Linked DNA regions of Homo sapiens. The protein of the gene in region 1 interacts with the protein of each later gene in a pairwise test. Each region holds a gene or a part of one and is shown on either strand. Other genes may lie near its edges. The genes, in order: PKP4, CDH5, DSC3 and CDH2.

Region 1 (7,029 bases):
TCACAGGACAATCTCAGGAATAAGAGCACTGCTTGCACCTCCTTGCCGCAGACTTGCCTGTCGCCCCTGCCTTTGGTTATGTTCACCAGCTTCTCTATGCCTCCTGAGTCGGCCAGGGCTTTTGCGTTCTCCATGTTTTTGCTGGTGACCTCGTGCAGAGCACAGCAGATGGCTGCCATGGTCTCATCAGACAAGACACTGGGGCCATTGCCGCCGGGGAGCCGGTTGACCAGGTCTCGCATGGCGTATTTGCCTGCCAACGGCAAAAGAGTAAATTCTACTTCCAGAAGGTACTAGGTTTTTGTTATTGTTGTTCAGATTCTGGTGGCATGCAATCTCTTAAAAATAAAACCCCCAAAGAGACAATAATAGGGGAAAAAATCAAAACCCATGGCAAAGAAGAAAAGGACAAATGTCATTATAAGGGGAAAGCTAACATTTATTGCAACGTCACTTGCAGAAATGATTCATTTATAAAACATTACTGTCAATTGCTGAAAGCAAATGTAAATCAATGCGTAAAATTGGGTAGACAAATCAAGTTACTTTCGTTCGAGTATTTTCAGTAACATTGAGTAATGAAGGAATTATAATAGTAAATTTTATTCTCAATGGAATTCCTATGCATCACAAATACCTCAATTTCCTCTTAGAGCTTTTTAAAACTTACCTTTGAATCTGGACCAAGTCAGGCTGCCAAACAATACTTTTCGTTAGATCTTTCTGGATCTTAATGTATGAACTGGGTACAGTTACACATTTTTGTGTATAGAGCTGAGGTGTACAGCAACTCATCTGACAACGGTGGCAACATGTTAGTTTCTTTAAAAGATGACACAAGTAAAAGTTCTGGTATTAAAATTATAGGTATGTTATCTCCCAGGAATAATGCAATAATAATGAAATTCTTGCTAAGACAAGGCAAGGGGAGTTTCACAGTTATTGAGGTATTTCTTTATAGATACTGAATTTTTCTTATTCCTCTCCAAAAAGAGATTACCTCTAGCTTTTTCAACTTCGATTACCAACTGACAAACTGTAAGTGCACTACAAACAAAAGAAATGAACTAAAGTGCAAGTAAACATCTTCTTAGTTCTCCCCTATGCTAATAATTGAGTGGATGTGCAATCGCTTTTTATAAAGGCCTGTTTATTTACAGTGGTAAGCAGAAGAAGACAGGTCTCAGCTACATGCTGTGTGATGTACAGCACGTCAGAGGGAAGGCTCTGGCTTGCTCACGACAAACACTGCTATGAAGAGTGGAAAAACAGTGCTGACACTGTAAGGCCACAAGATAAATGTGGTTTTCAGAGCAGATGATAAGTTAGCTCTGGTGATTTTGAATACTCATGAATGACCAAAAGGCCCATGACATGTAATTTGTCATTTTGCTAAGGCATAACTTTAAATTGCACTCCTGGGGGTTAGGCCGAGGCAGCTCACTCTGCCTATGAATGAGTGAGCCTGGCGGTCCCCTCAGAACTTGCAGCTCCAGACAGCAGGGTGGGTCCCACTCAGTTGAGTATGTAGTAACTTTTATGAAGTGATAAAACTTTGCTTCTTTGTGAAAAATGGCTCTGAAAAGAAAGTCCTTTGCTAGTGCTGATGATGAATGTGAAAAAAGAGGGAAGAGGTCAGAGAAGGGGAAGGTTCCTAGGAACTGAAGTACTGGGTAAATTAGAGCCAAATACTGAATCCAAGAGTGAGGCAGATCTCACAGGAAGACGGGAATAGGGAAACAAAAAAACAGACTGATGGAACAGTTCAAGAGTGCTCCAGCCAGGTTAAAAAAAAAAAAAAAAAGCTCATCACTGGAGAGGCAGAAGGCCAGTGGAAGTTAAAAAGGGTTATTCACAGAAAACACAGAAATGCACTGAGAGGAAGCCAAGACTTGGAACACACATTCCTCTTGCCAAAGGTCTTAGCACTTCACAGTACCAGCTCAAGGACTCCTGTCTACCTGTGTCTTTGCGTTGTGAAATATGACAGGCCACAGGATATACGTGTCAACCATTTATTTTTTAGCATTAAAAATGCCCAAATTATACATGCTTCTTATAAGAAATCCAAACAATACAGACGTAAGAAAAATAACTTTAAAGAATATCTCTCTTTAGGGACCTGAAGGATTTCTGTAAAGGAAGTGTGGGAACTGAGAGATATGGCACATCTACAAGAATCAGGCATGAGCTGGACCATGAACAGGGTGAGGAGGAACTTCCTTTCCTCTCCGTAGGGGGATGATTTGGCTTAAAGGAATGGTGTGTTAAGAGCAGGTTAATCTGGGCAACAATTCAAAATAGCAATTCTGTCAGGCACTGTGTGAAGGGCTTCCATTGTAAGTCATCACGTTTAATCCTTACAGCAATTCTTTATGGTAAACATCATCGCCCTTGTTTCTCTCTCCTTCTCTCATGGCAGGTGTATTTTAAGTTTACTATAGATTCACATGAATCCACATAAGATCTTGTCCCATTTCCCCTCCTTCTCCCCTGACCTGTCACCAGCTGTGGGACTTGGCATGGAGCTCTCTCATTTCCTCTTTACAGCAAACCCAGTTAGGACAGCAGGCATCAACAGCTCCCCTTCAGAGATGAGGAGTTGCCTTTCATTTCCAATCTAGATAGAATTACGGAGCCTGAACGGGGTTATATAGGATACCCCAGGTTGCATGGCCAGTGAGCAGCACATCCTGGGAACGAAGCTCAGGTTTATGGGGGTCCCTGATGTCTTCTTTAGCCCGCATCCTGCCTAGGATGTGGCAATGCCGCAGAGGCAAGCAAGCTGCCTGGGGTGCGGAGCGTACAGAGGTCCTCACTGTTTGGTTTGTGCATGTGCCAACCCTACCTTGTACAAACCTGAGAGTAAAGGCCTCCTAAAATGTTGTGCCTTTGGCGCCTTGCTTAGCTCACCCTAGTCCTGCCCCTGCCCAGGGTGGAAATGATGTTGGGACAGTGGTTCTTCTCTGGGATAAAGATTTATACCAATGTGAGAGGGGAAAGCTACAAAACATTCATGTGATTTTTTATTTAGAGTATGGTAGTGTTGGTGAATTAGCAGGTAGCAGTCCAAAAATTGGAAAGGGAGATTAAGATTTTTTGTTGCTCAGGATATAGAGAACTCTCTTAGAAATGAGAGACATTAACCCTACTAGTGTTGTAAGGTACAACTAAAATTGCTGGCCTTTCTGAAAATTTACCTTCCCTAATCAATGACTAATTAATGAGCTTGCCTCCTGCTGAAAAAGAATGGTCACAAAACAGGAGTACTCAAATATGCCAAGAAACTGGAGACTAGGGCTCAGCTGTTAATGATTTTACAAGCCATATATTTATTAATCAAAAGAAGAGTTTCATGAATTTTGTAGCTGCTCTCACATTTACAGCTCATCTTGTCACCAGAACATACCTATGAGCTCCTTGTTGCGAACATCTAGTGCCATATTCCTCAAGGCTGTTGCCACGGAAGAAACAACTCTATCGTTATCCATTCTCAGAAGCTCCACAAGGATGGGGAGCCCCTTTTCTTTTCGGACGGCCGCCCGGATATATGCTGCAAACTAGTGAGAAAAATAAGGCAGGAAGTAACATAAAACAGAGTTCCAGTCTCATATGTTACTGTCACCTAAAAAAGATGTTTCCAAAAGATGAACTAATAGATTAAATGGTTTCTTTCCAATTGAAGATCAAATCTGTGGTGTCAGTGAAGAGAAAACCAAAGTTGGGGAGAAAGATAGGCTGGAATGACTGATTTAAAAAGAAATCCCAAAGCCTGAAAATCTCAAACCACCATCTGCCAGATATTTTTGTGCAGAAAAGAGAAGGCAGTGATTACTTTCTATCTCAGATACATAAACATGATTAAGGAAGGATCGTGTGTTTTCTTTGCAGTTGGTCCCCTGCCAAACCCAGAGGCTATAAATAGGATGGCAGAGACAGTAACCCATCAGCACACATGAAAGGAGAACCTGTCTCCATCAAGTCATTTTTTTTCTATATTCCCTGCAACAATATTTCGAGTTCAGAAACCTGTCAAAGAGATTAGTTGGAAAAATCCCTTGCCTCAGAAGAAAGGGAAATCTCCAGAAACATCCAGCATCATAATTCATACAGCCTGGTGAAAAAGTAAGTATATTTGTGTGCAAAATGCATTCTCACTCAAGATTAGTTAGCTGCTGATGCTGTTTTTTAAAAATCCATAGTCAAGAAATTTTTCTGTGACTATGAAGCAACTCTGTACTGTGAGTCAGTTTGTATATCTTATAAAATGGAAATGAGCGCTAAGTCATCAGTGAAACAACCAAAAAGAGTAACGTTAGAAAACGGTTCTTTAATCTTGTTTCCAGCTTTGAGCTTTAATTGACTTTTTCAACCAATGCAAATCATCTTTCAAATTTTAGGGTAATTGAAAGATGCTGCTCATAAAACATATACTTTCCTGCTGTGACCAAGACAGTAGGACAGAGATCTACCAGCCCTTTGTATTATTTCGAACATTAAAATATGTGATTGACCATCCAGTTTCTTGAATACCAACAGAATATTTTAATAATACAAATAAGAGGGAAAGATGCATTTCAAAGATCCTATTTATATTCTGCATATGAAATGCATACTCCTATTTTTCAAATCACATGAAATCTATGGGGGGAAAATGAAGTACATGACTGGTTACTAGGCAAAGCACTCAGGCAGTTTTATGAACTTCTCTCTGAAACCTGCAACAACAGAACCATCTCCTTCTGTCTCACTTGGAGACCTACCAGCCCAGCCCAGCCCAGCCCGTCTCCCTTCTGGAGAACTACAGTCATCACTGCTCCTGAAATAGCTTCTTACTTGATAACATCTGTGGCCACGATTATCTCATTTTCTTAGTGAAGGTCCAATATTTTAACTCACTATTGAAATCGCTTAGATATAATGTTTATATTTTAAATGAGCTTTGCCATCTAACTCTCTCACTAAATGATCCCAGACATGAACTTCTAAATAAGTCAAATCACATCGATTTCAATTACTGTCTTTTATTATCATCAAATGATCCTCTGGTCACAGAAGCTGAAGGTGAACGCTGTTCTACAACATAAATGTTTATAAATACTTATGTGCTGGGAGTATCTCACTAAATCCTCATAACCACTTTATAAGGCAGGTATTAATATTCACTTTATTTTAGGGAGGTGGAAACTGTGGGCAGAGCCCCTAGGCTGCCAGACGGTAAGCAGAGTGGCCTGGATTCAGAGCCAGCACTTACACACTCAGTCACTGGCACTTTAACTAGGAGCCACAACAAAATAACCACACCGGCTTAGCACTAGACCATAGTTATCGCTCTATATTCAACATAGTGGCCACGTGCACGAAACAAACCATACCTAGGCTTATCAATGCTTTTCACTATCTTGAAAACACCATCACCAAAAGATTCTCATTTTGGGGGGTTAAGGTGGGGGAAGAAGCCCACAGCAAGCATTGTAGTAACTCTACTAAAATACACCTGTCAAGAAATTACTAGAGGTTGAAAATGTCTCAGACAAGGACTGTCTGGGAAGTTGCTGGGGGACATTTAGAAAGTTCTGAGAACTTGCTTACAGTGGTAACAAAAGGAAACTGTCTTCAGTTTTCATACTCATACATTTGCAAAAAGATGCAGAAACCTTAGACACAGGCATGTCTGTAACGGTCTGAGAGGAACAGAGGTCCTCTATCCCTCCCCACAGTGCTGCCCAACCTGTGTTCTGTCCTGCCACTCAAGATTTCTCACCTTTGTATTGCTGCACTGGCTCCCAAATCCAATCCCTGCTTCTAACTCTCCCTTCCTCGAATCCACCTTTTGCACTGCCATGGAAGTGGGGGAGCAGTGATGATATTAGCCCGTCTCTGTCACTCATCTGCCCAGACTCTTTCGGTAGTCCCTCCTGTGTGTAGGTTAGGATTCAGCTCCTGAAGTTTGGCCTTCAGGCCTATCCATGATGCCTGGCTCCATGGTGGGCCCCAGTGGGCAGCCAGTAGTCCTGGCCCACACGTCTTCTCTGCACCACAAGACTGTCCTCCTCCTGTTGTCCCTGTTATCTGGATGGCTCCTTCCATACCACAGCCTCAGCCTCTACAGGCTTACTTTCACTCATCTTCAGAGATTCTGCCGGGCAGCATCCCCTTCAGGAAATCTCCTCCACGTCCTTACTCCGCTCTTTTCCTGACCTTCCCTTACACTGTGTGGCTGGGTTAGATGTCTTCTTTCAGGACCCCACAGCACATACATCCTGTGGCTTCTACACTGTGCTGGCACCATCTGTTTTTCTCACTAGCCTTCTGTTTCTCATAGTGAGGGACTTGTATTTATCTTTGTATCCCCAGAGCAACTGCTTGTCTCCCTTTTTTCCCTTTAACCCCTTCACACACAAGCTAAGTAGCTGTGACCCTTTCACCATCAGGGCTGATCTGACTGAGGCAGAACATATATATATAACATTTCAAGTTAGTTTGCAAAGATGGAAAGAAGTGTAGATAAGTGGAAGTCATCCTACCTTCCAGTTGCCAGCAGAGAGGTTCTGGAGAGACCCTGCAGAGCCTTCCAAGGTGGCTGGGTTGGAACTTTCTGCTAGAAGAGTCAGATATGGTTTTACCACCGATGGGTGCCACAGCATCTCAACCCCTTTGGGGGACTTCGACAGTCCTGGGATAGGACCAACTCCATCCCACTGAAAGACAAACAGCACACGTTAAATGGAGGCAGAATGAACATGATCTCCAATACTTGAAAACATTCACCTTTGCGGGACTCAGCTATAGCTATGCAGAAAATTTATTTTCTTGCCAAATATGTGATTCCTCACTCCCAGAAAAATTAAACTTGAGAGTCTCATATAAAATAAAATGCTAACTTGATCTTCTTGCGGAGTCCTCTTTTTCTTTTTCTTCTTCTTCCCCCAGCAACTTGGCTCAGAGTCTTTGCTGGGAGACTCTTTTCCTAGTAAGTCATCCAATTCGTTCAGTCCCAGTAACCGGGCCTGGGGCACCTCCAGCTCC
Region 2 (7,029 bases), on another chromosome or scaffold:
GCTTCTTGCCTCTAGTCCAGCTGTTCATCATGCATCCTGGCCACTGGGCCTTAGTACCTCCTCATGAACCCACCTGCCCCCTGCACGCCACAGCCTTGCTCCAAGATGCTTGTTGCTGCCCACCTCTCTCCCACCCTGCCCGACCAAGGGGGCAATCCTCACTCCCTGTCTCCACTTCCTCCCCTTCTAGAATCTTCCCTAGGCTGCATCATCTAACTTCCCACCCTATCAACCCCTGTCAGTGCCCTCACTGAGGGCTCCAATGACTGCACTGCTGCTAAACCCTGGGGACACTTTCCAGACCTCATGGGATGTGGCCATACCCTCTGGAATCTCCCTCTTCTTTCTTGAGACCCCAGCCTCTCTTGAGTTCTCTGGAGGAGTCCAGCCTTTTTTTTTTTTTTTTTTTTTTTTGAGTCTGAGTCTCGCTCTGTCACCCAGGCTGGAGTGCAGTGGCGTGATCTTGGCTCACTGCAACCTCTGCCTCCCAGGCTCAAATGATCCTCCTCCCTCAGCCTCCCAAGTAGCTGAGACTACAGCTGGGTGTGCCACCACACCCAGCTAATTTTTTTTTTTTGTATTTTTAATAGAGATGGGGTTTCACCATGTTGGCCAGGCTGGTCTCAAACTTCTGACCTCAAGTGATCCACCCACCTTGGACTCCCAAAGTGCTGGGATTACAGGCATGAGCCACCATGCCCCCCGAGTCCAGCCTTTCTAAAGAGTCCTCACCAGATGCCTTCACACAAAAGCCCTTGCTCTATTTGACTTTAAATAATGTGAGGCAGACTCAGTAGCTCATGCCTGTAATCCCAGCATTCTGAGAGGCCAAGGCAGGAGAATTGCTTGAGCCCAGGAGTTTGACAACAGCCTGGACAACATAGTGAGACCTCATCTCTACAAAAAAATACAAAAATTAGCCGAGCTTGGTGGTGCACACTTGTAGTCCCAGCTACTCCGGAGTACCTGTCTCAAAAAAAAAAAAAAAAAAAAGAGGCTGGGCGTGGTGGCTCACACCTGTAATCACAGCACTTTGGGAGGCCAAGGCAGGCAGATCACTTGAGGTCAGGAGTTTGAGACCAGCCTGGCCAACATGGTGAAACCCTGTCTCTACTAAAAATAGAAAAATTAGCCAGGCACGGTGGCACATGCCTATAATCCCAGCTACTCAGGAGGCTGAGGCAGAATAATCGCTTGAACCCAGGAGGCGGAGGTTGCAGTGAGCCAAGATCGTGCCACTGCACTCCAGCCTGGGCAACAGAGCTAAACTCAAAAAACAAACAAACAAACAAAAAAGCAATGTTGCACTTCCTCAGCATGCCAGCCTCTGAGGCTGCAAACCTAGATCCTGAGAGCCACAATGGGATCTGTACCCTCTGTACTCCTAGTGGGGGCCTGGCACCTCCCAGGCACCAAGTTATATTTTTTAATTGAATAGAATTCTATTTTGGGGACATACTAACCTTCTATGAGAGTATCATTGTATATGCATAGAATACTATTCTATAGGAACTATACCGTTCCTAATATTTTCTGTTTCTATGATTCTTTAAATGGAGATCCTCTAACCTGTGGCTCTATTATTGATAATTATTAGCTAGCATTTATAGAACCCTGTTTGGTGTAAGATGCTTTACATATATTATTTTCCAAATCTTACTCCTTGGGACATGAACAGTACATGTTACACAGAAAAATGGTTCTGTGGTCTAAGAAGTATGGAAAATCCTGAGTTACACAAAGCTCACTGGAGTTCTTTTCTGCAGAGCTGTACATTGTAAATCTCCAAGAAGAGAATATTTTATGCACCATTTTCTGTACTGGGCCCAGGGGTGTGCTGATATATGTTTGACAACTGGCTGTCCAGGGGAAAAGTTCTGATGCGTAGCACTTGCCAATTTCCATGGTGTAAATATTCTCACCATGTCTCATTTCAAGCTATCAATGTGATGTCATCGAAGGCCAAGACAAGACAGGAGAAGATCCTCATGAGCACATCATTATGTAGCATTTCCATCATACAGATACCATAAACACAGATAACCTCAAAACACAGTCAAAGGTAGCAAAACAATTAGGAAGCGATGAATTCTGAGAATTCGTTGTTTTTCATGATTTATTTAATTGTAAGTTCATATAATTTAATTTGTAATAGTGGCTGTATTTAACAATCAGCTCACAAATATTCCTGAAAATTTAAGCTGGTTCTTGAAAGCCAAGCTGATACAATCCAGCGCCAGCACACCACTGGCTAGGACCCCATCTTTGCGTGGAACAGCAGAAGAGTTCAGTGTTTCCCAGAACTCATCTTCAAAAGTGCTGTTCTACTCCTCAGAGCAAAGCAACATCAGAAGCAATATTTCCATTTTACAAATGAGGCAACTAAAACTTAGAGAGGTTAAGTGACTTCTACAGGGCAAAAATATCCTTTGCCTTCCAATGGCACCAGGTATATTTTTTCCACTCAAAAAATGTTTTCTAAGCACCTACTCTGTTCAGGCACCATTCTAGGCATGCTGGGGCTCTGCCAGGCAACTCACACCATGAGAACAACTCATTGGTGACTAGTCAGAGGTTCTTTTTTTTTTTTGGCTTTTTAAAAATTTTATTTTCAGGGGTACATGTCCATGTTTGTTACATGTATATTGCATATTCGTGGGGATTGGGCTTCTAGCATACCCATTACCCAAATAGTGAACATTATGGCCAATAGGTTATTTGTCTACCCTCGCCCTCATCCCAACCTCCCCTCTTTTGGAGTCTCCAGTGTCTATTATTTCCATTTTTATGGCCATATGTACCAATTGTTTAGCTCCTACTTATAAGTGAGAATATGTGGTATTGGATTTGTTGCTTCTGGGTTAGTTCACTTAGGTTCATTTAGGATTATGGCCTGCAGCTCTATCCATGTTCCTGCAAAGGACATGATTTTATTCTTTTTTATGGCTGCCAGAGGTTCTTGATAAAAAATCTCAGTATCATATTTAGGGACCCTGGCCAGCACCACACACACCACATACACACATGCACAGGCACACCTGTGTACACACACTCTCACTCACACACTCACACACAGCCACTGCCGCCCATTCCCAGCTCACGTCACCTCTTCTTTTCTAGATCAAGTCAAGCGTGAGTCGCAAGAATGCCAAGTACCTGCTCAAAGGAGAATATGTGGGCAAGGTCTTCCGGGTCGATGCAGAGACAGGAGACGTGTTCGCCATTGAGAGGCTGGACCGGGAGAATATCTCAGAGTACCACCTCACTGCTGTCATTGTGGACAAGGACACTGGCGAAAACCTGGAGACTCCTTCCAGCTTCACCATCAAAGTTCATGACGTGAACGACAACTGGCCTGTGTTCACGCATCGGTTGTTCAATGCGTCCGTGCCTGAGTCGTCGGCTGTGGGTACGTTGCATGCCCACTCTGTCCTCCTCCCTCCCTCATCCCCAGCCTGGGGGCACCTCTCACATCAGCCACTTCACTGCCTGGGGTAGGAATCCAGTGAGTTCAGGGTAGTGATTGTAATGCCTGTGTTGCCACTTTACATGATTTGAAAGAAACTCTAGTTCCTAACAAGCTCTGATCTGGCCACAGGCTGAGCTCTGACCCTAGTCATAGACCAAGCCCTGATCCTAATCATGGACTGAGCCCTGACTACAGTCATAAACTTGGCCCTGATCCTGATCCTGGACTGAGCCCTGATCCTGATCATGGGTTGAACCCTGACACTGGTCACAGACCAAGCCCTGATCCTGATCGTGGACTGAGCCCTGACCCTAGTCATAAACTTAGCCCTGATCCTGATCATGGACTGAGCCCTGCCCCTAGTCATAGACTGAGCCCTGATTCTGATCATGGACTGAGTCCTGACCCTAGTCATAGACTGTGCCCTGATTTTGATCATGAACTCACCCCTGGCCATCAGAGGCATATCTCACTACTCTTTGGAACAAACTTCACTCACTTCCTCTGACTGTCAGGACTAGCACACCAAGAGTGTAGCCTTTACATGTGACGACTGTCATGGCCTGCCACTAAGGCAAAAGGATTCATCTCTAGGGGCCATGCAGGAGTGGTGTGGGGGACAGAGCACTAGCCCCAAGGTATGTCACCAGCCTGGGCTCTGGGCTCAGGAGGTTACTACTCCACCTCTTCAGTACACCTCAGACTCCAGAGGGTGCCAGAAAAGAGCTTCCCTCTTCAGTCCAGAGTCTCCAGCCAGGGCCCTGGGACCAGACCTTCGGGTTGAGTGTGAGATCCTGGAGTTCAAGGGGATGCAAGAAATGACACCACTCCTTTGGGGGCACCTTTCCAGGAGAGGGAGAAGCAGCTCATTGCTGTCCTCCATTTCTCTCCCTGACCCCAACCCTCCGCCCCCTCCCTCATTTCCCCAGGAAGCACACAAACCACCTGATCTCTTTGACCCCTTCAAGGTTGACCTGGCTGGGCCCCCACTGCCACCAGCACTTTGCCCCCATGCAGGCTCCTCAGAAAACAAAACAGCCTTTTATTCCCAGGACCTGGGGGAGGTGGGGACAGAGCACAGCCTGAGCCCCATCTGCTCTGTTCCAGGAATGGGGTAAGGGGCCTAGCAGTCACAAGTCAGCAACCCCAGGATTCTCTCTCTGCAGGGACCTCAGTCATCTCTGTGACAGCAGTGGATGCAGACGACCCCACTGTGGGAGACCACGCCTCTGTCATGTACCAAATCCTGAAGGGGAAAGAGTATTTTGCCATCGATAATTCTGGTCTGTGTGACTAACACTCCTGGACAGTCACTGATTTGGAGGGACAAGGGGAGGTGGATACTCCAGGTGCATGTGCTAAGGGAAGTCCAGTCTGACAGGTGTCACTAGCTACTGAACCACACTGTACCATGGAAGTAGTCAGTATCATATGTAAAGACAAGGCGGCTGGTCAAGGGAGAAGGAAGCAGGCAGGTGCCCAAGAGGTGGACTCAAGTCCAGGGAACAAAATCAGGATCTTGTTACCCAAGAAGTGGCCAAGGGGCAGCAGAGGATGGTGGCTAGCCGCTCTGGGTGCAGGTTCAGACAGATCTGGTTTCCAAAGCCAGCTCTGCCACTCACCCCCTCTAGAGACCTTGGACAAATCAACTAACTTCTGCAAGCCTTAGTTCCCTCATCTAGGAGGTAGGAATGCTTATATTTATATCGTATGGTAGCTGTAAAGTTTGAGTTAGATCATGTATAAAGGCAGCAAGGCCCATAGTAATTGCTTATGTGATGACTTAACAAAAAATATAAGGACTGACTCTTGGGAGCAAGAAAGAAGTCCAGTGGAACTGTCTTTCAGAGAGATGGCAAATACATAGCACAGATGCCACTACTATGCTACAGTGCACCAAGGCAGACATCACTAATCTATCACAGCACTCTTTCCATCTGAGCCTAGATATGGCCTCATGGTCTTTGTCAACACAATATTTCAGGTGGCGAGGACCAATACCGAACCCAACTATTGGGCCAGCTTTGGCCTCACAGTATAGGCTATGGAGGTAGTGGGTTGTAGACTCACAGTTCTCAGCCCCATTTGCACAGTGGAATCACCAGGGAAGCTCTTAAGTCAGGTTCTCTCTGGGCAGGCCCTAGGCATCGGTATTTTCTAGAAGCTGGTAACATGGTTCCTGCTGGGAATCTTTTTGCAGGACGTATTATCACAATAACGAAAAGCTTGGACCGAGAGAAGCAGGCCAGGTATGAGATCGTGGTGGAAGCGCGAGATGCCCAGGGCCTCCGGGGGGACTCGGGCACGGCCACCGTGCTGGTCACTCTGCAAGACATCAATGACAACTTCCCCTTCTTCACCCAGAGTGAGCCCCTCCTCTAGGGCCCTGGGAAGGGGGGCTGGGATACCCCAGACTCAGTGACTTGGGGCTCTGGGAAAAGAGTTACAAATCACTTTACCTCTCCCTCTATCCCAGGGTAGGCCTGATGCCCAAAGGAGTCCTTTGGGTGAAGGGAGGGGCCCTGCTTCCATCCCAATACCACATTCCCAAGGCCATCCTGCCGCCCCCTGCCACAATCCCCTCATAGGCCAGAGGGAAATCCCACTCCCTGCTGGGTGCCACCACTGTACTGTGTCCCACCATGAGACACAAGCAGTTTCACCCAGATCCCATGGGCTTGGGAAAATCAAAGCCCTGAGACTCAGGTCCCAGCTAGAAATTCCCACAAGCCAGTGAACATGGGGACAGCAAAGTTCTATATCCAGAGCCAGGGCTGGGCCCTGACCCCACCTACACACTGATCCACCCCACAGAGAATGTCTAATGAGAGCTTTTCCCATGCCTGGGGCAGATGGCTCTCCACTTGCAACTCCCAGTGCTGATACTGTCATTCAGTTGTTCAGCCACCCTAGAGACAGGCCAATTGTCCTGAAGTGGCTTCCTCGTACATGGCATAAGCTCCCTGAAGGCAGGACTTGTCTCTCTTGTCCATTGATAGGTCCCCTAGCAAAGTGCCTGGCATACAATAGGTGCTCAATAGCTATTTATTGGATGGAGGGATGGATGGATGGACATACAGATAGGGAAGACCCTCTTTACCTTGAGAATCCCAGGGGTATTATTATTTATGATTATTTTATTATGCCCATTTCTTTTATCAAAATATGTTAGAATAGCTGAAAGAGGCAATCGCCTTGTCTATCTCATTAACCCAAAGCCCTTTGGGGTGCTCTGTTTGCATCAGCCAAGTACACATTTGTCGTGCCTGAAGACACCCGTGTGGGCACCTCTGTGGGCTCTCTGTTTGTTGAGGACCCAGATGAGCCCCAGAACCGGATGACCAAGTACAGCATCTTGCGGGGCGACTACCAGGACGCTTTCACCATTGAGACAAACCCCGCCCACAACGAGGGCATCATCAAGCCCATGAAGGTTTGTAGGCCAATGGCAACAATGTCAAACGTGAGGCTTGGGGCTCTTGGCACCCACAGGTCCTGCTTGGGGATTGCTCCTGGGCCAGAGACCATCAAAGGACCATCAAAGCTCCAAGGTGGTCATG
Region 3 (7,029 bases), on another chromosome or scaffold:
CGTTTCTTATCCATTGACCTTCTAGTATTTGCGCACTATTCATATGGATAAGGTAATTTTTCAAAGCACAATAGATTGTTTACGATTAACACCTTTGCATCTGGAAGTAATCTTAGTACCAGAAGCTAATTAATGTCACTCAGGCTACTTATAAGGCTTACACAAAACAGAAATATCTATATAACAATTCACTTTTATCAACTCTGATAGTCAATTTTCCCCAATAGTCTTGATCTATTATTTTAATGACCATATTGTCAACTAACCAAAAGCTCCACAGAATTTCAATGGCAGTTACAGCCTCCCTGAGCTTTTATAATAGACTAAGTAAAATGAAAAAGTAGCATAATACACACCCTGGAAGTCATCTGGAATTCCTAAGCCTTGATTAAATGCTCTGCTGTAGCTGTAAGAATTTCAAAGATTTTGGCTGCACCTCATACCTGAAGGCTCCCTAGAGGAATATGAATTACCACTTGGGTTTACTTAGGACCCTTCAAGACCACACTGTGTCTAAGGTAAGATCCTTGAAATCTCTCCGCTCCCTCAAGACAACAAGTGGAGCCATTGTCATGTCTCAGTTATTCACAGTAGTGCATTGGCCTCTGATTTTTCTTCACTCAACTCTGCCCCCTTCATATTGTCCTCCTGTCAACAGTGTCACCTTTAAAAGATGTAAATCTGGGAATGGCATTGCCTTATTTGCACATTCCCAATGCATAATTGCTGTTGCCTACTGTACCAAGGTTAGTCCCCTCAGCCTGGCACACAAGGCCCTTCACCACCAGATGCTACCCTTCCTTCCACCCAACCTCTTGGCATTCTTACTAAAACCTTCTAAACTCTAATGACATGGATATACTTATTCTCCTGGTATGTTTCTTCTTTTATGCACATTATTAATCAATTATTGAACAAGCAAACATTTATGAAGCAGTTAGTATCTACTAAGCATTAGGCTAGGTGCTGGAAGTACAAAGATGAATTGCAAACATTCTAGGAAACTCATGTATTGGAAGGGAGAAGTAATCAGATGTTAATACAACAGGAAAGGCACTGCAATGCAGGTAGCGAAGGGTCATGGTGCCACTCCTTCCAATTCAAGACAAACTTCAGAGGTGGAGCATCTCAGCTGGGATTGTGTCTGTCTTGTTCATCTCTATATAAATCCTCAGGATCTGGACGAGTGCTTAATAGATAGTAGATGTTCATAAATATCATGAAAAAAATATCATGCTCATAAATATCAAGCTAAGAAATGGAAAAGGAGGTATTCTATGTAGATATGGCTATATACACAAAAGCCCAGTTGCATGAAAGAACATGGCAGTAACAACAGAATGAAGTATGGATGAAGTACAGAACATGACAGCCCCCAGAAACTGCTACAATAGGCAGCAGCCCCTCAATACTCCTTCCCATATCCCTTGCTATATCCCGCCAGGTTCACTTCCAGGATACCCTAGAGTGCTTGGTCTATACACCTGAGTTCCTCACTTCCAGAGTCAGCTTACAATACAATTTAAACTACACATCTTCTGCTCTCTCCTCACCTCGCTGGTATTATTATTATTATTATTATTTTGAGACGGAGTCTCCCTCTGTCCCCCAGGCTGGAGTGCAGTGGCACCATCTCTCAGCTCACTGCAACTTCCACCTACTGGTTTAAGTGATTCTGCTGCCTCAGCCTCCCCAGTAGCTTGGATTACAGGTGCCTGCCACCACGCCCAGCTAATTTATGTATTTTTAACAGAGATGGGGTTTCACCATGTTGGCCAGGCTGGTCTTGAACTCCTGACCTCAAGTGATCCACCCACCTAGGCCTCCCAAAGTGCTGGGATTACAGGCATGAGTCACCATGCCCAGCCATTGGCATTATTTTTAAAAACATGCACACACACACACAAAGTTTGTCTTAATGATAAGCTGCCCAACATTTTAACAAAGCTTTCCTTTGTTGTAAATGTAAATGTTGCCTTCATAAAAATTACATCTTCCTTCATTTTATATATAACAGAGCCCCCATATAATATTTGTAAAAGGTTAGTTTATCCTTCTAAAATATATTAATGAGACTCAGTTTTACTTCATGCTTTGTGTAAGTAAGCAAGTCAATCTATCCTCCAGTTATTCTGTTATTTCAGAGTTTATAAATCATTATTTTTTATTAAATACCATTAACTTTGGTGAGGCTCCACAGTCTACTGATTTCTGGAGAAGTATTGGGCAAACTGAAATAAAATGGAGCTCCATGGACAGGTTCATCAGGATCAACAGCTAAAATGTCGGTATACCCCATTTTTGGTTTGCAAATGACTACATATTCTTGAAGTATTTCTGGTGGATTATCATTTACATCTTCAATGTTCACAGCAAGTGTTCCAGTACATGATCTATCATCTAAGGAGACAGGAATAAGGTTTAGTGTTATTTTAAAATTCTTTCATAGTTTCTTAAAGAATAAAAAGTCAATTATATTCTATACATGATCTGTTTTTAAATAAACTGATTATTAAAGGAAATGATAAATAAATAAGAACATAGACAGATAAATAGAATCTGCAGCTAATTTGAAATGACTATTGCTACTGATAATATCAGATACAACTGTCAATAAATCTTTTACCAGAATTACTACCAAATAAAAATAAATGTCTGAATTTCAATCTCTATTTTTGGGGGTTCCAGGTGCCACATGTTAGTAAGCAGTAAAGTGGTTACAGATAAGATTTCTAATCCCAGTATATATTCAAACCACTAGGAAGATTTTTTTAAAATATAAGATTCCTAGGCTCCACAACCGGATATTCTGATTCAGTTAGTCTAACAAAGTATCTACAGATTAATATTTTTATTTTAATGTGAAGACAAGGTTGAAAAACTCTAGGTTACTTTAAGGAACAGAATTCAAGAAAAGGATCATTTTGACCTAATATGCAGCTGAACTATATAAAAGCTCAATTTAAAGTGACACAAACGGATGTGGAAGAGTCTGATGAGACCATTTTATCTAGTTTTAGATTTCAGTTTTATTTTTGTCCTCTAGCATAGAAATACATAAGAATTTAAGGTCCTGCCCTATTGGGGATATAAAGATAAATAAAACACGGCTTCTTGTCACCAAACAGTTTCACCTTGTTAGATAATTAAGAGAGACAGAAAGAGTCTTTAAAGTAATTTCAAAGAATTCCATACACTTACCACCAAAATAAATCTGCATAAGAATAATTACATTTTATTCTCTAATTCCTTTATAGAATACCAGATTAAAACTTTTTTTTTACCTTTGTCTATTGCCAGGACTGTAATATTATACAACTCATTTTTGGGAGTTTCAACCTCCCTATCCAGGATTTTGGAAGTTATGATTGACCCTGAAATTTCATCAATGGTGATCCAACCTTTAGGATCATGCAATTTTTTGTACCTGTTAATAAAAAAAAAATAGTCTTTAGCATCAGAAAATGTTTTCAAATAAGTTACTATCTCAATGATTACAAATACATTATTAGTATGTGGTTATAGATTTATTTTTACCTTAAACCATTGCCATTTCTATTTTCGGGGTCATATGCCTTATAGCCGTTGATCTTTGACCCCACTGCTAAGTTTTCTTTAATCCGCACATATTGGGCTGCAGGAGTGCATTCAGGCCCCTCATCCAGATCCCTCACATGAACTGTAACCAAGGCTCTGTTCAAGGCTGTCACTCTGGGAATATCTCTAGCAAATGGCGCTTCATTGTTTACTCCAATTTCCAGGTTCACTTGACGGTTTTCTTCATAATTCAGTGGCTTTAAAATAAAGTCCATGTATATCAGTGTCAGTGTAAAATACATCTGGCATTTCAAATGGCAAGTGAACATTTGTCATCCTGACCAGTGCTGCATAAATTCTATGTTCACATGTTGTTAATACTGACTTTTATCCCTTGCTAAACAGAGAGTGGATCCCGTGCTAAGCCTCTACCAAGAATGGTCCAACAACTTCTGCAGGTAGTTTCATAGAGTTGGACAAACGAAATTCCGGAAATATTTTCATATTTCACTCTTACTAAGGAAAATTACTCTGATTCAAAAAGTAATGCAAACAGATGACAGTATTCTTATGGTCCTGCTTGGAGCACTGTCTAACAGGCTGGGCTAACGGTCATCTGAGTATGGGAAGTTGCCTTTATTTGGCTTATCAGTTACTACTGACTATGGCCCAGGCATTTTATAACTCTTGTAAAGTTTGATGTTGACTTTCACAAAACCAAAAGGTGCAATGATTTCATTTTCTGTCTCATAGAAAAGATATCTCCAGTATTTTATTTTCTTTTATTTTATTTTTGAGACAGAGTCTTGCCTCATTCTGTCACCCAGGCTGGAGAGCAGTGGCGCAATCTTGGCTTACTGCAACCTCTGCCTCTTTGGTTCAAGCGATTCTCCTGCCTCAGCCTCCCATGTAGCTGGGACTACAGGCACGTGCCACCATAATCAGCTAATTTTTGTATTTTTTTCTTTAGTAAAGATGGGGTTCTGCCATCTTAGGCTGGTCTCGAACTCCTGAACTCAGGTGATCCACCTCCCTTGGCATCCCTAAATGCTGGGATTACAGGCGTGAACCACCATGCCCGGCCCCAAATGTGTGTTTTAATTGCCCTCTAAGGCATCTAACTGAGCCATCTAATTGCTGCTTTTCTTTTATCAAAATCCATCCAGAGTCTCATTTCTTCTTAGGAATCAACTTGTCTTTTTGCTGGTTCCTTCATGAATGAGTTAAAACCTTTATCCATCCATGCCCACTACCTGTTTTTATGAAAATTACATTTTTGAAAACTTGAGAATTATACTTTGGCATTGTCTATAATTTATCCAATGAAACATTCACAGTGGATACACAGAGGAGTAAGGGAAATACTATGTGATTGATTTTAATTATCATTGAATCTAAGGCACTACTCTAACAGTGAAAATAAACTCACTAAATCCTCATGACATTATGAAGTAAGTATTATTGACCTCATCCTCATTTTACAGAGCAGAAAACGGGAAAAGGAGATAAACTGATTTTTTTTTAAGACCAAAAGATAATCATTTGAGCTTGAATTTGAAGCCAGGTAGTCTGACCTGAGTCCATTTCCTTAGCCTACGCTATAATCCCTCTGCTATCGTGTGCTGCTTAATTGGCTCACTGATCTCTAAAAAATTTCCAAATCAATCTTTGACTAAAATTCAGTTTTAGATAACAAATCAAGTAAAACCCATAAAACATTATGTTACACTGTACTATAAAGTTGAAGCACTTTTTCTTCAATTTCTCTTTCTGCTTATCAAAACAATCACTGGCTAAACATTGAACAAAATCAAAACTGGTGAATAAAATTATTTTAAATCTTTCTCCACACCTAGGTATTAACAGAGTAAGACATTAGTATCACGAGTCCACTAAAAAGTCAAGAAAGTTTCTGAATCTTAGAATCTACAAAACATATGTAAAACCTTTTTTTATTTTGTATGTATATCCCACAAACTGGAGAGTCAAGGAAAAAAATATTAATATCTGTTCGTTTGATGCTGATGAATACTGTTTCACACATTTCATGTGCTGGTGTGATCACACAGAGAGTAAGAGCAACTGCTGGCAATGAGAAATGGATGGAAATTTAGAGAACAGCTGCTGCACTGGAGGAGGTGCAACTATTCAATCCAGAAACACTCGCTGAAGCCTTGGAGTTTCTTTGTCCCATTTTTCGAGGCTTAAGATGGATATTGTTTTAGTAGCTTAAAACTCTCCAAAATTAAAAATCTGGTGAGATGAAATCCTAAAGATTAATGGGATTAGTTAATCTCATTAATTAATAGGAAAGCCTGTAAATTCTCTTCCACCTCAGGGTACGTTTTTGTTTCGCCACTTAAAAAAAGTGCTTAAAAATATCCCACATCTGCACTGAGATGTTAACAACTCCCTAGAAAATGTATAGTTGTGGAAATGGAGCTGAGGACTCTCCATGTTGAGAAGGACCAAGAATAATACTATCCTCACTCAAGCCCATATGCGTCACTGCTGCTGCTCCAATGGACAGAAGCCACTGAGGTGGAATGAGTTTACCCAGAACACAGCAAAAGCCTGTATCACTCATGCTTTGTGGTTACAGAAAAGTTATCTATTTTGGAACATTATAACACTAGTCTCAAGGACATAGCATAACTTTTTAAAATAAAATAATAATATCCCACAGTTTACCAAGTGCTGTTACGTTCAATATTATATTTGAAGAGCTATTAGGGAGGCAGAAAGAAGTATTGTTCCCATTTTACAGATAACACAGAGGCCAACTTTCCAAGATCACACAGCTGTGGAAAACAATTTAACATAGTGCTTGACAGCGTATAGTTAGAGTCAAAGAGCTAGGTTCAAATTCTGTCTACACTACATCCTAGCTGTGTGGCATTGGGAAAGTTATTTAGTCTCTTTAACTCTTCTCTTCTGTGAAATTGTTGTAAGAATGACATTTAACACTACAGCATAAAATAAGGCTTTACACTAAATTCTGAGTAATCTCTCAAGCTGTCACAGAGGCGAATGAAGGGAATAAATGCTGTATGTTTTTGTTAACAGCCAATATATTGCAATAAAAGGAGACGCTAACTAGTAAGACAATGTTTGCAAGCTTTATTCAGCTAAAAGTATACCAGAGCAATTCTTGGTTTGGCCTACTGATTACTTAACTCTTTGAGGTATAAAGGAATGAATAACATGCACTCTTTCCCTGGATATAATTCTGACTAGCAAGGAAGAACCAGGGCATTGGAAGAGGAGGATTCCTTTAGAGTTAACAACATAGTGATGTCATTCTTTAATCAGTACTCAAAAGGTTAGTCATCATTAGGTACATAGCCTACATGACAGAAACATGGATTTTGAACACCATGATTATACAGTGTTTGATTTTCAAATAAAAGATGACTCACTGAGATTAAAAAGTACTTAAAGATGCCAGGCACGGTGGCTCACGTCTGTAATCCTAGCACTTTGGGAGGCCAA
Region 4 (6,694 bases), on another chromosome or scaffold:
TCAATGGATAAAGGCCAGTCAAATCTAAGTGTGTTTCACTAAGTACATAAAACGATGGCTTCAATGAATTGCACAAGAATTCCAGGTGTCCACTGCAGTTTCCAGGTTCAGTCCTATAACCCACTTTACTGAAGTTTCCCTTATGGTGGTGGCTCTAATGGGAAAGGCCTGTCAGTCAACAGAACAATTAACTTGAGCAGAAACAAATTAAAACATGAGTTATATTAAGAATTAACACCGAAGTTCACTGAAGGTAAAGGATGTGATTTTTCTATCACCACCAGTAGGGTCTATTCCTGAATCACTTGATGTTTTTCTTCTATGATGATGGGAAGGTCCAAAATGATTCTCTCTGCTGCACACCGTACATGGTTGCCATGCTACGCGTTTCAATGGTGAATAGTGCAAGAACAAATACATACTTTTTGTACTGTTGTTCCCAGTACTTGGGATTTTTGCAACATTCAAAGCAGCTCAAGTAGAAAAGAAAAAGTTCAAACCAGTCACCAGATCCAAAATTAGCATTTTATTCAGAACGCTGGGGTCAGAGGTGTATCATTTATATTCTGGTACACAATACAGAGGCAAAGCTGTTGTCAGAAGTCTCTCCAGTTTAAAAGCTTTTTTTTTTCCATTTTTTTTTTAAAAAAACACACACTTAGTAGTGCCACCAGTGTCAGGCCACCCCTTTCTTTCCTTTCCTTTTTTTTTTTTTTTGGTACAAATTATGTAAAACATTTGTGCTAAGAACTTTTCTCCCTCCCCAAACCAAAAAGAAAATAAAAAATAAAAAAATTAAAAAAATTAAAAATTGAGTATTCTAACTACAGCTCAACAATTGAATCAAATGTCACTGTTTTGTAAATACTTTATCCATAACGAAAGATATAAACATGCAAAAAACCTGAATCCATAGTCCAAATAATACATACACATGTTCTGAAGTTTCTGCACTTCTCCATAGACTATGCCAATAAAACATTATGTACACATACTATTTTTACAGTGAAGTGGAAAAATACAGAAATAAAAAAGTGTACATGGATTAAGACCAAAATGTGTCTAACATTCTAGTTTATGAAAAAATTCAATTTTGCTACAAATTGGTGATATGAAAACTCCCTTTATTTGCAACCAGCTGAGTAAGTTTTAAGATTTTAGTGAAAAAAAAAAAAACAAACTAAAGTCTAAAACTAGAAGTAATGTACATTTTCCAATCTCATGGTCTCATCCCCCAAGATAATAAAATCGCTCCATGAGTTTTTTTGTTTGTTTAATTTTGTATTTTAATAAAAGCAAATGCAATGTAACAAAAGCGTGTTGAAGCATATCATGGTTTAACTTACTGCTCCCACCACAAAATATTTTGTCTTTTACTTATCGTTTCAGAAATCAGTACCATTAAAGCCTTAAACAGAAAACTAATTCCAATCTGAAAAAGGTACAAAAAGGCACATAAAATCCCAGTGCTTCTGTACTGTAAAATTCAAGTGTAACTGAGCTCAGTGTTTTTCCAAACAGTATGGATCACTGATATTCCCTCTGAGCCCAAATTGGTTTGCAGCCTATGCCAAAGCCTCCAGCAAGCACTGTGCTAGTAGACTACAAAGTTAAAGCCTAGCTTCTGAATGCTTTTTGGGAATATCAGTTGAAATTGTTTGTACTTGTCCAAAAACCAAGTTCACCCTGAAGTTCAGTCATCACCTCCACCATACATGTCAGCAAGTTTCTTGAACCGTGGCCCCCAGTCGTTCAGGTAATCATAGTCCTGCTCACCACCACTACTTGAGGAATTAAGGGAGCTCAAGGACCCAGCAGTGGAGCCACTGCCTTCATAGTCAAACACTAACAGGGAGTCATATGGTGGAGCTGTGGGGTCATTGTCAGCCGCTTTAAGGCCCTGCAATTTGGAAACACAAAGAATGAAAGAATTAAGAGAGGGTTACACTTTACAAAACCACAAGCAGATCCTAATGAATTCACGGGATCAAACAAACACTTGTTTGTAAATTTCCATTTACATACCATATTTTCAACACATGGAAAAGGGAGATATAACCATTTGAAAGTTGGACAAAAATTAACTTATATCTTTCCGGTGCAAAGAAACAACCCTAAGCAGTCAAGCTCAGGGAGGCCAAGGCTTATGAAGGGAGGGGGTTAACTGGGTAATAAGTTGGACAGGTGGCAGAAATGAATGGCCCTGCTTGAGGCAGAGAAGAAAGGATCTTAAATAACATAATATATAGAGCAGCATTGCTAGATTAAATTTAAAAAAAGCACCTCACTGAAATACAAGAGACACACAAATGAGTACCATGTGGTCCATGTCCCTCCACAGGCTTACAGTCTAGCATAACAGGTATTACTACTGTGTGAAGCAAATGACAAGTGACAAAACTATGAAGTCAAAGCAAAAGCCATCAGGTTGTGGGGGAAAAAAATTCACATCAGCATTAAGAGCTAGGAGTTCAAAGAGAAAGTAGCATTGTATTTGACCTCATTTTGGAAGGACATCAAAGGAAGACTGAAGACAGGTCAGATGTGATTACTACATAAAGGGAGGTACTCAGAAAATCATTTATGTGACTAACATAGCATAAAATGTGGAATTAATTAATTGTAAACTGGTATTTTAAAAAATAGGGTATCTTCTAACTTCCAAAAAATCCTAGAAATGTCATAATCCAATATCTGTACACGGTATAAATATTGAAAAGAGGAGGACTCCTGTCAATCTAAAATAACATGCGTTATCTGGTTCTTATAAAGAATTTTAAGAAAAAAGAAACAAGGAAATAACTACTATCTATATTTGTAACTTTTGTAAGCAGATGCTTTTTAATATACAATTAGAGTCTCTATGCTCTGCAAAACTTCTAAGGATTTAGTATTAGGTCCTCTGGTATATTTTCTACTTAATTTTTTCCCCCAATTCCATTCTAGTACTCCTAGATACACTAACATTAGTCTCCAAACAATCGTTTGCTTTTTCCACACTCTACTTGTCAAATGCTAGTTGGCTTATATGGCCTCACCTATCTAAGATGTGTCACAGACAGTCCTACCCTTGAGAGATCAAGCCTGCCAATACACATGCATTTTATGAGCGCATACATGGGTTTTTATGAGCATGTGTTCACCTATCCTTTCAAGGTTACAAAGGAGAAACAGGGAAGAAGAGCAAAAAAATTAAGGTCAGAATCAGTATGGTGTAGTGGTTAAGAGATCAGACTGTGAGATGACACCTTAGCTCTCCCCAGTACTAGCTGTGGGACCTCCGCTTAACCTCATCTACAACTGTAATCATAATAATAGGACTATTATAAAGACCAAATGCAATAAAGGGACCCGAGGTCTCACCACAGTGACTGGCACATGTAGAGCTCAATGAATATTAGTTAGTATTTTTAAAAAATTTAAGTTTTGAGAAAAATGTCCTGCCTTGGGATTTGAAAAAATAAGAAACGATGAAGATATATTTTAAGAAACAAAATGGCAGCTGCTTGACTCACGTCAAAAATCAGAGAAAAAAGTACACATGACCAGTTTTCTCATCTCCAGGTACCTCTTTACTAACAATCCATGAAATTTAGCAGTACTTTACTACTTTTCGTCATGTCATTTTATACTGTTTATACTCCAGAAAAGCCTGTGTAAAATAAAATAAAGCAGGTTTCAGCAAAATACTTTGATATATACAACATAAATAACTTTAGATAGGATTTTATCTTATTTTTAGACTAAGCTACAAGGCAATTCTGCTAAGACTGAGAACCACAACCTACAATTTCTCAAAACTTGTAACTCCCTTCTGTGGTAGATTGTGTTACTGCCCTCAGTGATTCACTGCTCTTTTTCTGAAGGCAGAACACACACCCACACTCCCACAGAGCCTCTCTGGGGTCAGGGTTTACTTTCCCAACCACACTGTAAGGCTTGGCTGTCTGACTGGCTTTGGCCAATGCAATGTAAGTAGCTGTGAAAAGTACCCGCTTCAAGAACTCTATCTAATGTGTTTCCACCCTTCCACTAATCCCCCTTTCCCCCTCTGCCAGGAGAATGGCCTGCTCCAGATGGGAAGTTTATCTGCCTGGATCCTGAAACGAAGACGACATATGGATCAGGAACTGAGTCACTGACAGACTACAGCTGACTTACAACTTAAGTAAGAAGTAAACCTTCATTATTATAAGCAGCAATATTTTGGAGTGGTCAGTGATTGGTACCTTAGCTAACAAAAGCCGAAGAATGCACCTTCATTCATTTTGTTTGTGTTTATTCATTAGATTCAAGATGTATTTGTTGATTATCTATTAATATTATTGCAATGTATTCTGCTAACTGGTAGAGACACAGCTACTAATGAGCTAGATCCAATGGCTGCCCTCGTGGAGTTAATATTCACATATTAGCCTACACTCCTCTTCCCTACAAGATCTAGCAACTGCAAATTTAACCAACAGCGGATTGCCTTAGTTCAGCATTGTCTGACTTGGGGTCATACAAGTAGGCCCAAGAAGGATCTGAAGAAAAAACAAGAAAAATCAGGGAAATTCCTGATAAGGAGAATGGGTCCCTGAAAACAAATATTAAATTTTCATTATGACAATTGCTTTATAATACAGACAACAGAGACAATGGCTAAGATCACTTTGTTCAGGTCATCTGCTTTACCACAATTTAATTATTAAGCGAAAATACACACAGAGCCCTGGCCCAATCCTTATGATGTCAACACCAAACTGGAAATATGGAGAGGTCAAGACTCAAATTAGGGATAGCATTAGGAGAAATACCTAATGTAGATGATGGGTTGATGGATGCAGCAAACCACCATGGCACGTGTATACCTATGTAATAAACCTGCACATTCCGCACATGTATCTCAGAATTTAAAGTATAATAGTAAAAAAAAAAAAAAAAGAAAAAGAAAGAAAAAGAGAATGACAAGTTAAAAAAAAAAAAAAAGACTCAAATTAGCCCGAAAGGGTCAATGGCAAGGCCTCAAGTGTGTCTGAATTTGGAGGAGAAAAAAGGGATGGCCTGTGTTTACTATGTCCAGGGAATAAACACAAGAAGGGGTCTGGTCTTCCCTGGTGTGTTCACGGACCCCAGGACTCTTCATCAAATGACTAAGCCACCTAATTCAATTCCTTAAAATAAATATAATGCTTGTGATAATCAACTCCCATATCCACTATTGAGAGTCTAAAAAATATTATTTTCTTTATTTTTTAGCTCCTGCCCTGGCTTTCTGATCATCCTGGTAGTTTACAAATCTCTGTTTTCTTTATTTCTGTTTTTTTTTTTTTTTTTTTAAAGAGGTTAAGGCCATAAAATCCATTAGAGAGAGACCACTGTGCTATGCTAGAGCACGGCACATTGCCTTATGTTTTAATAATTACAAAAGGGCAAAATCACTGAACTTTTCAAGAGTTCTTAGACAAGCCAGCTTTCTATGCAGGTTAAGTACTTTAAATCCCTTCCATTTGGATAGCACTGATTTTTATCTGAGAATAAAATATGACTCTTCTGAACGAGGTATTATATAAACTCTTGGTAATATTTTGGTAATTCTAAAAAGATCGCACTGAAGTCCTAAGAAACTGACAGTAACAGGCACGAAATCTGAGTGAATGTACAGAAGAAATCCAGTGGGCAACAGAACCTTCTGGTTCTCCCTTATGGGATTCCTTTATTCTTGGATATGAACATTATTTCACAGGATGTACTGTTACCAAATTTACAAACTAAACGCCTGTGTTTCTCTAGGTTTGACTAAATTTAGCAAAGTATCCTCTTGTTCCACCTTTCCTGGAGAGGTAGATCTTGAATTCTGGATAAAGCTGAACTGTCTTCTAAAGACTGAGGCTTCTCTGCAGAGTGAGAGAGCTTGGCTCTGGCTGAATTCTTGCTGAGCTTGTATTTATAGACTTCTGATCCCAGGCTTTATGGGCGGAGACATGCTTTTATGAGGATAAAAACCCACATTATCCAGCGAGGAACACATGAGGGATGTAAAAGAAAAGAGGTCTTACTGTTTCCTTTACATTCTGTCTTCTACAGTCCTAGTGCCACTGCTTTAGTGGAGGTCATCATTATATCTTGCCTGGACCAGAGAAAAAGCCTGCCTAACTGGTCTTCGCCTGTCTCCAGCACTGTTCCAGCTTCTTTCCTACAAACTATTGGTTTCTGTCTCAAACGTTATTTGATATCACTCCCGCAAGTAAGACCTCTGACTGCTCTCTATGACTCCTTCCAAATGAAAGAGTTCCCCCGACAATGGGCAAAATGATTTTTAATTGGTGCATGAACACTTTAAAACAATTATTTAAGAAAATTAACTTAAAAATTGATGAACAGTTTAAGAAAATAACAAGAAGTACACAGAGAGGGAAAAAACTGGAAGGTGTTAACTCAAATGCCTGCTGTTGGGTAACCTACAGCATACAGTAAAACTCTTTAGAAAGCATTCAGTGAACCAAGACTGTTTACCCACCTTTTCTGTTTCAGCTATTCTCAGCTCCAGCAACCACGACTGAATTATGCACCCCCAAAGGGAATCCCCCCAAACCCCAAAGCATCATGTTCTTGTGCACTTCTATGTTGTTTATTCATTTTTTTTAGAATTATACTTCTTATATTTTTTATCTGATTAATATCCATCCATCCCATCCATCCATCCATCCAA

Evidence for each region.
Region 2: the proteins of PKP4 (region 1) and CDH5 interact in a two-hybrid assay, tested with the Homo sapiens proteins (one study listed by BioGRID).
Region 3: the proteins of PKP4 (region 1) and DSC3 interact in a two-hybrid assay, tested with the Homo sapiens proteins (one study listed by BioGRID).
Region 4: the proteins of PKP4 (region 1) and CDH2 interact in a two-hybrid assay, tested with the Homo sapiens proteins (one study listed by BioGRID).

The regions. Positions count from the first base shown.
Region 1 is NC_000002.12:158,662,944-158,669,972, reverse strand, and holds part of PKP4 (plakophilin-4), read right to left. Parts: coding exon 6,885-7,029; intron 6,702-6,884; coding exon 6,528-6,701; intron 4,126-6,527; exon of another isoform or gene 3,892-4,125; intron 3,561-3,891; coding exon 3,410-3,560; coding exon of another isoform or gene 3,396-3,409; exon of another isoform or gene 3,309-3,395; intron 254-3,308; coding exon 58-253; intron 1-57. UniProt on the Homo sapiens protein: Plays a role as a regulator of Rho activity during cytokinesis. May play a role in junctional plaques.
Region 2 is NC_000016.10:66,383,689-66,390,717, forward strand, and holds part of CDH5 (cadherin-5 preproprotein), read left to right. Parts: intron 1-3,120; coding exon 3,121-3,409; intron 3,410-4,635; coding exon 4,636-4,752; intron 4,753-5,669; coding exon 5,670-5,834; intron 5,835-6,687; coding exon of another isoform or gene 6,688-6,714; coding exon 6,715-6,902; intron 6,903-7,029. UniProt on the Homo sapiens protein: Cadherins are calcium-dependent cell adhesion proteins. They preferentially interact with themselves in a homophilic manner in connecting cells; cadherins may thus contribute to the sorting of heterogeneous cell types.
Region 3 is NC_000018.10:31,004,732-31,011,760, forward strand, and holds part of DSC3 (desmocollin-3 isoform Dsc3a preproprotein), read right to left. Parts: intron 3,795-7,029; coding exon 3,538-3,794; intron 3,428-3,537; coding exon 3,285-3,427; intron 2,401-3,284; coding exon 2,176-2,400; intron 1-2,175. UniProt on the Homo sapiens protein: A component of desmosome cell-cell junctions which are required for positive regulation of cellular adhesion. Required for cell-cell adhesion in the epidermis, as a result required for the maintenance of the dermal cohesion and the dermal barrier function.
Region 4 is NC_000018.10:27,950,460-27,957,153, forward strand, and holds the end of CDH2 (cadherin-2 isoform 1 preproprotein), read right to left. Parts: intron 4,169-6,694; exon of another isoform or gene 4,059-4,168; intron 1,901-4,058; coding exon 1,694-1,900; 3' UTR 507-1,693; downstream 1-506. UniProt on the Homo sapiens protein: Calcium-dependent cell adhesion protein; preferentially mediates homotypic cell-cell adhesion by dimerization with a CDH2 chain from another cell. Cadherins may thus contribute to the sorting of heterogeneous cell types.